Linked DNA regions of Homo sapiens: all the other regions are linked to region 2. The links come from fine-mapping of genetic effects on gene expression. A gene starts in region 2. Each other region holds a variant in brackets. All regions are shown on one strand. Distances are between the middles of the regions. Region 1 overlaps CDC73 (cell division cycle 73). Region 2 holds the start of B3GALT2 (beta-1,3-galactosyltransferase 2). Region 3 overlaps CDC73 (cell division cycle 73).

The links. PIP is the estimated chance that this variant, and not a neighbour inherited with it, causes the effect.
Region 1: its variant is the best candidate, but not a certain one, in a credible set for the expression of B3GALT2 in whole blood (INTERVAL, PIP 0.87).
Region 3: its variant is the best candidate, but not a certain one, in a credible set for the expression of B3GALT2 in whole blood (TOPMed, PIP 0.51).

Annotation. Positions count from the first base shown.
Region 1 is chr1:193,162,671-193,166,918 of GRCh38, reverse strand. All of the region lies in intron 10 of CDC73 (cell division cycle 73), which reads right to left. Among named protein-coding and RNA genes, the nearest start is that of B3GALT2, 22 kb to the left of the region's middle. The variant A/G (reference allele first, on the strand shown) is at 2,522.
Region 2 is chr1:193,183,993-193,188,240 of GRCh38, reverse strand. It overlaps B3GALT2 (beta-1,3-galactosyltransferase 2), which reads left to right and starts at 1,628. Exons shown (of 2, transcript NM_003783.3): 1 at 1,628-2,222. All of the region lies in intron 10 of CDC73 (cell division cycle 73), which reads right to left.
Region 3 is chr1:193,223,362-193,227,609 of GRCh38, reverse strand. All of the region lies in intron 13 of CDC73 (cell division cycle 73), which reads right to left. Among named protein-coding and RNA genes, the nearest start is that of B3GALT2, 39 kb to the right of the region's middle. The variant G/A (reference allele first, on the strand shown) is at 2,209.

The DNA.
Region 1 (4,248 bases), 21 kb after region 2:
TCAAATCAGTATTGCACATTATTATCATGCATTGTACTTGTCATTAAAAATTTGTGACCAGCCTGACCAACACGGAGAAACCCCGTCTCTGCTAAAAATACAAAATAGCCGGGCGTGGTGGCGCATAACTGTAATCCCAGCTACTCGGGAAGGCTGAGGCAGGACAATCGCTTGAACCTGGTATGCAGAGGTTGTGGTGAGCCAAGATAGCTCCACTGTACTCCAGGGGCAACAAGAGCAAAACTCGGTCTCAAAAAAAAAAAAAAAGAAAAAAAGTGTGAAAATTTGATTTATCTCTTGTTACATAAGCACCTACATAATTTCCGTGGTTTTGTCTATCGGCCTGTAAGCCTAAAGTACTTAGTTTCTGGCCCTTTAAAGAAGAGGTTTGTCAATCCCCAACTTAAATCATTACATTTAAACCATTTTAAATCACTGTAGACTAAAAAATGTAAGGCAATAATGAAAACACACTTAAGGCTGGGCGCAGTGGCTCACACCTGTAATCTCTGCACTTTGAGAAGCCAAAGCAGGAGGATCGTTAGAGACCAGCCCGGGCAACACAGTGAACCGTGTCTCTACAAAATATACCAAAATTAGCTGGGCATTGCAGTGCATGCCTGTGGTCCCAGCTGAGGTGGGAGCAGTGATTGAGCCCAGGAAATAAAGGCTGCAATGAGCTCTAACTGTACAACTACATTCCAGCCTGGGTGACAGAGCAAGACCCTGTTTCCAAAAAGAAAGAAAGAAAAAAAAATGCACTTAAACTATACAAACTCCTGCTATATTACTTACTTTTGCTCATACCTGACTCTTCATTTTTATATTATCATTAAAAATAATTTCACATTAAAGTTTCTAAGAGTTCAGCTTAGATAACAAACACTGGTTTTGGAAACTAGGTTTTATGACTAACTTGATAATTGTTTTTTAACAAAGTCAACCTAAAATTACAAGGCATAACAGAACTTACATGTAAAACTCATAGTGAAAGGATGGCTGGCTTATTTTTATGGGCAAACACCAAATATCAATACAGTGTAAGTAAATAAGGGCACATATAAAAATGGTAGGTTGTTCCTTACAGACCAAATGTTAGCATGCTCAGCTTAAGTGTACCAGTGGAGACCTCAACCACATTTTGATCAATTTTATGCATATGTGGGAGGGAGAGAGAGATACGAATGCATGTGCATGCATCCATGTGTGAAAGAGAGAAAAAGACTAATTATTTTCTTCTATTACTGAAAATGGTTCTGGTAATTTCACTAAATACATTTTATGTAAATACAATCAAATGAGTAAAATGTAAACAAAACTTTTACACAATCCACCAATTATGAAAAATATTTCATGCTTTGCATTTATGCTGTATGTATCTTCACGTCTTTCAAATATGTCACAGCAGAATTTTTTAATGTGTCCATCCTGAGACTGTGTAAAACGTTCATCCCAACATATAATTATTACTTATCTACTGATACATAAAGTCTTCTTTATACTTCTCTATTTGTACTTTACAATGATACTACTTTATTTGCACTTTAACCATATTTGATTTTTTACTCATATTGACTGCATTCTGAATCTTAAGTACTTTTATACAATGCTAAGAAACACTTAAATTGTAATGTCTTTGCAGCACTGAAATTACTAATTGGGAGGGTGAGGTTTAAGGAGCCTCATTAATTTGACTATCAACCTGTAATAAGTGAAAGGTAGAGAAAGTGATTTCCATGCTGAGGAAAGTGGCATACACCTGCAATCTCAGGTACTTAAGGCAGGAGGATGGCTTGAGCCCAGAGTTCAAGTCCAACCTGGGCAACGTAGTGAGACCTCATCTCTTTAAAAAGAAAGAAAGATTTCCAAAACCCAGCAGGAAATCCCTGCTCTTCTCTCCCCTTCCAAATCAACAAAGCTAAATGTGACTAATCCTAAATTTACAGCTCAAACGTGCAGAAAGGTCAGTCTATCGCTCCTCACCTCTCCTGTGATAAATCAGATCCTTTGGATATCTACATTATAAATCCCAAATTCAAAAGAGCTAGTTCCCTCACCAACACTTTTTAACAAATCAAATAGAATGGAATGAAACACAGTCCTAAAGTTGACTCAGTAATCTATACATCTAAAGAAATAACACATCATATCCATCTGGCAAGGGATTAGTCAGACACAACAAGGAATAGAAATCACAATGGCAAATCAAAACCTATCTAAGCAGTGCCCAAGGGGAAAGGTACCCTGGACTTGCAACAAGTCCTTTTTTTTAATGAAGAGTTAAAAATAACAGACTACTTTAATACCACTAAACATTTGAAGGATATAATTTATTATATGCTCATTGCACAGTACACTGTGATTTCCAATGTAGCTTTACACAGAGAACATGTTATGTGCTAGAGGTGAGAATCCAGTGCCCTTGTTAATTACATTTATCACTGCAAATTAATAAATCAGCATTTGATTTCAAATGCTACTCTCATAAGCTTAATTAAAATGAATCAGTTTCTCATGGTAT[A/G]CTAACATTACTTAGTTTCTCAGCCTTTCTCTGGGCTACAGCAAATTACTAACATAATGCCACCCTATGAGACAACTCAGGATTCAGGCAGCTGATCAACCATAGGCAACAAAACCTCCACACTGCTGTTCATCACCAGCAGTTATTTCTCCTTTGATCTGTTACACAGAAAATATGTTGACTGAAATTATTCAGTCACTTAGAACCAGTTACTATGTACTATGGACTAGTCTTCGATGATCTACAAGAGGTTTCTAATATAAAATGTAAATGTAATACTGCCAGTATGACACAATGAAGCATAGTTTTGTAAAATCTACTATACTGGGCTGGGCATGGTGGCTCATGCTTGCAATCCCAGCACTTTGGGAGGCCACCGATCACTTGAGGTCAGGAGTTCAAGGCCAGCCTGGCCAACATGGCGAAACCCCATCTACTAAAAAGTACAAAAATTAGCTGGGTGTGGTGGCGGGCACCTGTAATACCAGCTACTCAGAAGACTGAGGCAGGAGAACAGCTTGAACCTGGGAAGCGGAGGTTGCAGTTGATCCAGATCACGCCACTGCACTCCAGCCTGGGTGACAAGAGTGAGACTCCATCTCAAAAAACAAAAAAATCTACTATACTATAGCCTTTTTACACTGATGTTTAAAGCTTTAAAAGTTATACAAACTTTTCAAAAATATTAATGATGACTCAGAAAGTTAGAAATAATACAAATGTCTATCACAGGTGCCCCAAAATTGGTACCTATCAATTTATTAGAAAGTATTAGATGATTTATGTCTACTGCAGTTAACCTAGGTAAAGAAAAATATTTTCCAATATCAAGTTATTTAAATAGTTACGTTCTTGAAGTTTCTTCTTAAAGTAACTTCTTTTTTTGGGGGGCGGGCAGGGTCTCATTCTGTTGCCCACGCTGGAGTGTGGTGGCGCAATCATGGCTCACTACAGCCTTGACCTCCTGGGCTTAATCAATCTACCTGCCTCAGCCTCCTGAGTACCTGAGACTACAGGCACATACCACTACGCTCGGCTAATTTTTGAATATTTTTGTAGAGGCGGGATTTTGCCAAATTGCCCAAGCTGGTCTCGAACTTCTGGGCTCAAGGAATCCACCCGCCTCAGCCTCCCAAAGTGCAGGGATTACAGGCATGAGCCACTGCGCCCAGCCTGTTAACTTTTCTAGGAGGGGGAAAAAAAAAATATACACACACACCCACACACACACACACACACACACACAACCCCACAAAGTTCTTGATGAATTATAATGTACCTACAAATTTACTATCAGAATAATTGGTAATTATTCTGTCACTCTAAAACTCAGTAATTCCTAAGGATATTGTGAAATACCTTGTGTAGCTAGATAAGTTACTAAAATATTATAATCCTATCAGAAGCTGAATGGGGTGTTATTTTCTAAAAGCCATCTATAGAACACAAGTAAGAATTCAGTAACTTCTGAAAGATCAAAAAGCTGCTTTATTTTAGTTCTCAAGTTTGGTATAATGAAATATATTAGGAATTCAATTCCAGAATATTTATGGCACCACACATAAGACAGAAATGACAAAAAGACACTGTAGAAAAACTGGAGCATCTCTCCAAAAATACCAAATTTGGGGAGGTAAATGATTACAGGATTGATAATGTCCAGAATTCACTGTAGAGGATGATAAAAGACTGAATCAATTTTAATTGTAATGTGTAAAAATGTTAAA
Region 2 (4,248 bases):
TCTTTTAAGTGGGTATTACAATAATAAAATTATTAGAAAAGAGCCATTTGCATAACAGCTCAAGTAAGCTTAGCACGCAATCTGATTTTCAGTAAATACTCCATAAATGGTCATTGTGGCTAGCTTCATAGTCAAATCCTATGTAAAGAATCACTGATAAATAAATACTGATCTACAAAAACACATCTGTACTTCTGGAAAATAAGTTATTTTAAGTAAGTTCTTAAGCATTACTCTGTTAACTAGTAAACTAATTTTAAAAACAAAACGGTAGTGAGTGAGAATTGCAGTATGGGTGGATATAGACTACAAGGAAGTTGGGTTTTAGTCCTCTCCTTCAAACTTAACTAGGAAAAGTCAAAGCTCAGTCTAGGCTTTAGGTTTCCTATTTATAAAATTCTTTTTTTTCTTTAACGATCCTTCTAACATTTCTAATACAGTGGGGTTCTTAAAACTACAAAGCACATTTCATCAGCAAAGCTCAAAAATATGTGGACAAAATTTTTTTTAATATCAGAGAAAACAAATTCATATTCATTTGAAATAGCATATATTAATGGTGGAGGCAGTGAGATGAAGAATATGTATATAACTGTTAACCTTTAGCTTAAGCTCCAAAACTATAACTTTCTAGGACTGAATTACTGTCCCTAGAGTCACAGAGGAAAAACTGATAATAAAGGCTTTTTACTACAACAAAAAATTTAAAAAAACCTTCCCTACTGCTCTGCAGTAAGAAAAGAAGGTGCCAGCCCCAGAAACTAACCATATTAGAAAAATCTCAGTGAGTGTGTAGTGTTAATAAAATCTGCCTCATGGCAAGTTATTAAATCTTTCTGAAACATTAGAATAAGTAAACATAATTAGTAAAATCTCATTACCCCCAGATCCTGTACAAGTGTGCTATATCTATTACATCATTTTACTGAATTCTACGATACATGTAATTTTAAAGGGAAGGAAAAATAAATAAAAAATAAATGACAACATTAAAAAGTGATTTAAAATAAAGTTTTCTGCCATCAAGAACACCAAAAACCACATAAGAGCAAAAAAGAAGTGGGCTGTATCACATCATGCATTAGTAAAGTAATCCAAGACAGCTTATTTATACAAACCCCAGAAAACGGGGGGGGGGATCTAAATTACAAAGATACATGGTTTCAATAGAAACCATAGGTCTTAACTACATATTAGTAAAAAATCAAGAGCAATTTGAAAGCAGAGAAAAAAAACTTCAAGAAGAGAATGCACTGAAGGGGTTAAATTACACCAACTTACACACAAAAGCTTATACTGCTTACACCCTACAAAAGCATGTAAGAAACATGAAAACCAACATCTAACACAGAAAACACTTAGAAAGCCTGTACTTAAGAATAAAGTTAAAAAAGGAAGTAAGCTGGAAAAAATAAAATCATAACCATTTCATAATCATCACATTTTCAAATTATTCACTCATCACTACACTTGCATTCAACATATATAATTTATCACATAAAAGCAAAATCTCTAAGCTTCTCCCTACCTTAGGTTTTTAGTCAAAATGAATGCAAACAATCACGTGGGATTCAGCCAAGCAGTGACGTTAAATTCTGCTCTGTCAGAGAGAGCATCTGTCAAGCCCACATTTAAACTGCTGCCTGCCTGTGCAGCAGCTGAGGAACCGTGGATTTCATATTATAGACTAAAACCCCATTAAAACTGCTCAAAATCCTTCCTGCAGCTGCCAGGCAACAACGAAAGAAGAGAGGTAAATCCTATTCTTTTCCAATACAACTGAAGCACTACATTTTAGCTCTGGCTGCTTTACATTGCAGCTCAGTGTTATTAGTAGAAATATGGATACTGAGACGAGAACACAGCACTGCATTGTCCAGCCAGGAAAATAGCAGATGTAAAAAGCTTCAATGCATCAACTGTCGGGAAGAGTCAACAGTGCTACAAGCAGAACGGGCAACTACAGCTCTTTTGTTTAACGAAAGAGAGAAAATGAAAGAAAGGGAAAATTTCAGAAGACTAGGACCCATATGAACAAGGAGGGTAACTCGAAGACAAGCAGACAGATGGACACTTTGGATACTGTGAAAAGCAATCGCAGGAGGCAGACTGTTGGGGGATGTGCGCATGTTCGATAGCATCTTTTTTGCTGAAGTGATGGCGTGCCAAAAGTATTTTCAGTGGGCATAATCCTCTTCACATAAATGGCCTGACCAAGGAAGGTATGTCAATATCTTGTGTATGATAGTCATTTAAATGTGTTACCTTTTTATAGCCCTGGAGGCACTAATACCTGATAAGCAAGTTCATACAGCTCACTGCCCTTGAAACTATGAAAAGGTTTCTTAATATCTGATTTTAAAATTTGTCATTGTTTAGAAGACAAGCTGTCACTGCTTTATGCAGCTAAATATGTAGCTTGGAGTAATTCTGGGTAATAGACATCAGAGGGAAAAGGCAAATAAGAAGAAGATGTGTTTAAAGGATTCCTTAAGAAATTAAACTTAAAAAAAAATCTGTAGCCCTTTACAAAAAACACAGCAATATTCTATCAAATTAGGTCAAACTGAATCCTTATCTAGTAAATTAAATGCTCTCTTAAAAATGGCTATCAAAAGACACAATGCAGTGAAATTTCATTAAATAGTAGCAAGGAAAACCTTAAGAGTTTTTTTTTCAAAGTCCTTTTAAAACAAAACCTTAATATGTAACAGCTTTTAGTAACAAAATCTTCCCCAACATCTCCCTAAATGAAGATAATGAACACAACCAAAGAGAGTATCAACAAATTTTAAATATTACCAAGCTACAAGAAGATACTAAAAGGAAAGCATTAACATAAGATCACATAAGGTAGTGTGAGTTTATGCATAACCCCACAATAGAGCCTCGTGTTATTATAGTGACCATGAATAGAACTTTAAACAAAGGGACATCAATAGTGGCTTTAAAAATTAACTATTTTAAATAGCTTACATTTTATGTAAAAGACTGATTCCAAATGATCAAATTTAACGTTGTCTCTGATTATCATTTCAGAAGTGAAATTCAAAAACATAATATGGAAATACTTTGATACAAAAATATCCACAAATGGCAATACAAGGTCAAAAAATTAAATATAAATGTAGCTACTATGCTTCCAGGCTATATTAATATGCAGTAATGAACTACCGCCACTATATGTGTGTGCAGGGCACAGATAAACCAAATAAACTATTTTAGCAACAATCATAGAACAGCAACTCAGGGCTCAAGAACTTAAAGATATTTCTAAAATTCTACAAATCTATCAAAGATCCTGATTTTTCCTCAATTTCACAACACAACTCAGTAATTATCTAATAATCACAAAAGGCAAACATTTTTTAAAAATATGTAAGTACTGCATTCCAAAATGAAGATTAAACAAGTTTACCAGACTCTATTACACCTCAACATCACTCTCACCCATGAATTTTTATTCTAATAAAGACTAATAATAAATAGTACTAAAAAATATGGTTGTAAAAATTTCAAGTCCCTCTTGGTACCTTAATCTCTCAATATTGAAGTCACCAATTAAGCAGTTTTATAAGCTATACATCTCAAAACAAAAGTGTAAGTTTTTCTATTAAACCATCACCAACAGACTAAAGAGATCAACACTTTTAAAAGCCAAATGATAAAAACTGAGTGTGTACTGAACAGCATTTTACAGTAACATTCTCCCCATGAACTTCATCCACAAGCTATAAATACACATTAATAATGTGAAGATATCAAAAAAGAAGAGATAAACCAAAGCTATTTCTCTTCTAAAAATGTAAAAGTGCAGAACTATTTTGCATACTACTGAACTTTCTTGTTTTGCTCTCTCTTTTTAAGAATTAAAATACAACAGGCAATAACTGGAGAATAATTTTATCATTTAATAAAAAGCAGGCATGGTTATTTTAATTTTATATTCTTTTTAACAAAAAAATTTATAAGACCTGAGAATCTTTTAATAAGGAATTTTTTAAAGGCTAGACACATGCACTTCATTTATCAATGGGAGATTTATAGTTATATATGGATTTAATATCTCAACAGCTTAACATCTAAAACATACAAATACCATGAAGTCTAAATTAAGATGCATCTCTATCACATACTGTTACAAAATCATATTAGGACCAAAACTATGTATTTATGCTACATTACAATATGCAATAATTTGCTGTTTTCTGTAATACTAAAATACTTTAGAGACATCTTCAGGTATAT
Region 3 (4,248 bases), 39 kb before region 2:
TTATTCAAAGTAGAATTCAATTTTCTACAATTTTACAGTGGGCTTTTAAAATTATTATTATGATAATCTACAAAGTCTGTTATCTCCCTAACAGACTTCAGGTTTCCATTCTTGTAACTTTTCTTTCTTTTTTTTTTGAAACGAGGTCTTGCTGTAGTGCCTAGGCTGGTTTCAAACTTCAAACTCCTGGGCTCAAGCAATCTTCCCACCTCAGCCTCCCAAAGTGCTGAGATTACAGACATGAGGCACCACGCCAGACCTGGACAACAGTTTTCTTGAAGGCAAAGCCAATCGCTCAGATATATGGCACACCAACCAGTGTGCTGCTTTACATGTAGCATTCTCATCAGAGCAGAACTAAATGAAATTGAAACAAAAATAAAAAAATAGAAAAGATAAATGAAACAAAAAAAGCTGGTTCTTTGAAAAGATAAACAAAATGGGAGCTATTACACCTGACACCACCGAAAGACAAAATATCATTCAAGGCTACTATGAACAACTTTACATGCAAAAACTAGAAAACCTAGAATATATGGATAAATTCCTGGGAAGATTCAAACCTCCTAGCTTAAATCAGGAAGAACTGGATACCCTAAACAGACCAATAACAAGCAGCAAGATTAAAATGGTAATTTAAAAATTACCAACAAAAAAAAGTTCAGAACCAGAAGGATTCACAGCTGAATTGTATCAGACATTGGAAGAAGAATTGGTACCAATCCTTTTGACGCTATTCCACAAGATAGAGAAAGAGAATCCTCCCTAAATCATTCTATGAAGCCTGTAATACCCTAAGACCAAAACCAGGAAAGGATATAACCAAAAAAGAAAACTACAGACCAACATCCCTGATGAACACAGATGCAAAGATTCTTAACAAAATACATCTAACCAAATCCAACAACATATCAAAAAGATAATCCACCATGATCAAATGGGTTTCATACCAAGGATGCAGGGATGGTTTAACATACACAAGTCAATAAATGTGATACACTACATAAACAGAATTAAAAACAAAAATCACATGATCATCTCAATAGATGTAGAAAAAGCATCTGACAACATCTAGCATCCCTTTATGATTCAAACTCTCAGCAAAATTGGCAGACAAGAGACATACCTCAATGCAATAAAAGTCATCTATGACAAACCCACAGCTAACGTAGTTCTGAATGGGGAAAAGTTTAAAGCGTTCTGTCTGAAAACTGGAACAAGACAAAGATATCCACTCTCTTCATTTCATTCTCTTCTCTTCACTATAAGGACACAGTCACCAAAACAGCATGGCACTGGTATAAAATAGGCACAAGGACCAACGGAACAGAATAGAGAATCCAGAAATAAACCCAAATACTTACAGCCAACTGTAAGTATTTTGCCAACTGATCTTTGGCAAAACAAACAAAAACATAAAGTGGGGAAAGGACAACCTATTCAACATATGGTGCTGGGATAATTGGCAAGTCACATGTAGGAGAATGAAACTGGATCATCTCTCACCTTATACAAAAATCAACTCAAGATGGGTCAAGGACTTAAGTCCTGAAACACATCAAGGACAAAGACCTGAAACTAGAAAAATTCTAGAAGATAACACAGGAAAAACCCTTCTAGACACCGGCTTAGGCAAGGATTTCATGACCACGAACCAAAAAGCAGATGCAGTAAAAACAAATATAAATGGCTGAGACCTAATTAAACTAAAGAGCTTTTGCACGGCAAAAGGAACAGTCAGCAGAGTAAACAGTCAACTCACAGAGTGGGAGAAAAATCTTCATAATCTATACCTCTGACAAAGGACTAATATCCAGAATCTACCTCAAACTCAAATTAGCAAGAAAAAAACAAACAATCCCATGAAAAAGTGGGCTAAGGGCAGGAAAAGACAATTCTCAAAGGAAGATAAACAAATGGCCAAGAAATATGAAAAAAATGCTCAACATCACTAATGATCAGGGAAATGCAAATCAAAACCAAAATGCAATACTGCCTTACTTCTGCAAGAATGGCCCTAGTCAAAAAATCAAAAAACAATAGATGTTGGCATTGATGAAGTGAAAAGGGAACACTTCTACATTGCTAGTGGGAATGTAAACTAGTACAACCACTATGGAAAACAGTGTGGAGATTCCTTAAAAAACTAAAAGAAGAACTGCCATTTGATTCAGCAATCCCACTACTGAGTATCTACCCAGAAGAAAA[G/A]AAGTCATGATACAAAAAAGATACCTGCACACGCATGTTTACAGCAGCACAATTCGCAATTGCAAAAATGTGGAACCAACCTAAATGCCCATTAATCAACTAGCGGATAAAGAAACCGTAGTATGTGGATATATATATATATATATATATATATATCATGGAATACTACTCAGCCATAAAAGGGAAGGCATTAATGCCATTTGCTGCAATCTGGATGGAACTGGAGACTATCAGCCTAAGTGAAGTAACTCAGGAATGGAAAACCAAACATCGAATGATCTCATTTGTAAGTGGGAGCTAAGCTATGAGGATGCAAAGGCATGAGAATGACGAAATTGACTTTGGGGATGCAGGGGGAAACTGTGGGAGGGGGGTGAGGGATAAAAGACTACAAATCAGGTTCAGCATATACGGTTCGGGTGATGGGCACACCAAAATCTCACAAACTACTTAGTCATGTAACCAAATACCACCTGTTCCCCAAAAACCTGTGGAAATAAATTTTTTTTTAAAGACAAAAGGTAAGAAGATAAATTTAGGCAACATAATAAATCTTTAAAACAATAGAAAAAAAAAGAAAACACATTCAGCATCCTCAAACATTGGTTGAGCTAAAAAATTGGTCTGAAATAATTATTTTGATAAAACCATGTAAGATTTCTAAGTGCTCTGAGACCACCATTTGGAAATTATGGCACTTGTACTCATATATGTACATATATGAATGCATATTTCATATATGTGTATATGCGAATGATTTCATATATGTGTGTATGTGAATGCATATTTCATATATGTGTACATGTGAATGCATATTTCATATATGTGTATATGTGAATGCATATTTCACATGTGTATATGTGAATGCATATTTCATATATGTGTATATGTGAATGCATATTTCATATATGTGTATATGTGAATGCATAAATTTCGTATGTGCATATGTGAATGCATATTTCATATGTGTATATGTGAATGCATATTTCATATGTGTATATGTGAATGCATATTTCATATATGTGTATATGTGAATGCATATTTCATATATATATATATATACATGGAACAATGGCATTGAGTAAACACTAACAAATTATGACCCTTAAAAACTATGACTTTATGCTGTTTCTCGTATAATATGACAGATCCCCTAAGTAACTGCAACAATAATTCCCAAAAAAAAACAAGTAAACAGTAAATCTCATGAAGTGAGTAGTCTGGTAGTTATCAGAGACCAGGAAGGGTGGGGGAGTGGAGGAGATAGAAGTTGATTAATGGGTACAGAAATACAGGTACAAGAAATAAGACCTAGTTTTCAATAAATCAGCAGAGTGACTACAGTAAACAATAATTTACAGTATATTTCAAAATAGCTATCAAAGAATAATTTGAATATTTCCAACATAAAGATAAATGTTTAAGGTAATATATATCTTAATTACCCTGATTTATTACATATTATAAAAATGTGTCAAAATATTACATGTACCTCAAAATATGTGGGTCTATTACGTATCAATACAAAAAAAAAAAGGAAAAAAGAAAAAAAATCTTAAAAGCCTATCTGAGCTAGCGCAAGGTATAAAAAATACTTAGACCAAAGACCAAGTGAAAAGAGAGGAACCCAAAGAAGTAAGAACAACACTGCAGACTGCTATTCATTGGATTTGCAAACCAATTAAAGTTAAGCCTGGTTTTTCACTATATTTCACTGGGCTCCTGAAATAGAAAATAAGTCCAAATTCTGCTCAAGGTAGAAAATCTAATAAGAGTTCCTTCCCTTATAAAGCTGAGACTCAGGGGTTAAGTTCAACATAATGGTAAACTAGAAATAAACTCACTGTTCACCCTCTTCCCCAACAACCCCAACCCTAACCCTACCCTTATTTTGACAACTGCAAGGAAAATCAAATATCTCAAATGGTAAAACTGACCTCATTTGAATTTGCAGCAAGAACAACAGTATCTAGATATTTAAAACCTCCAATAGAGAATTTAATTTAAAGTTATGCTAGATTGGTAATGCTCCCAGGTGCT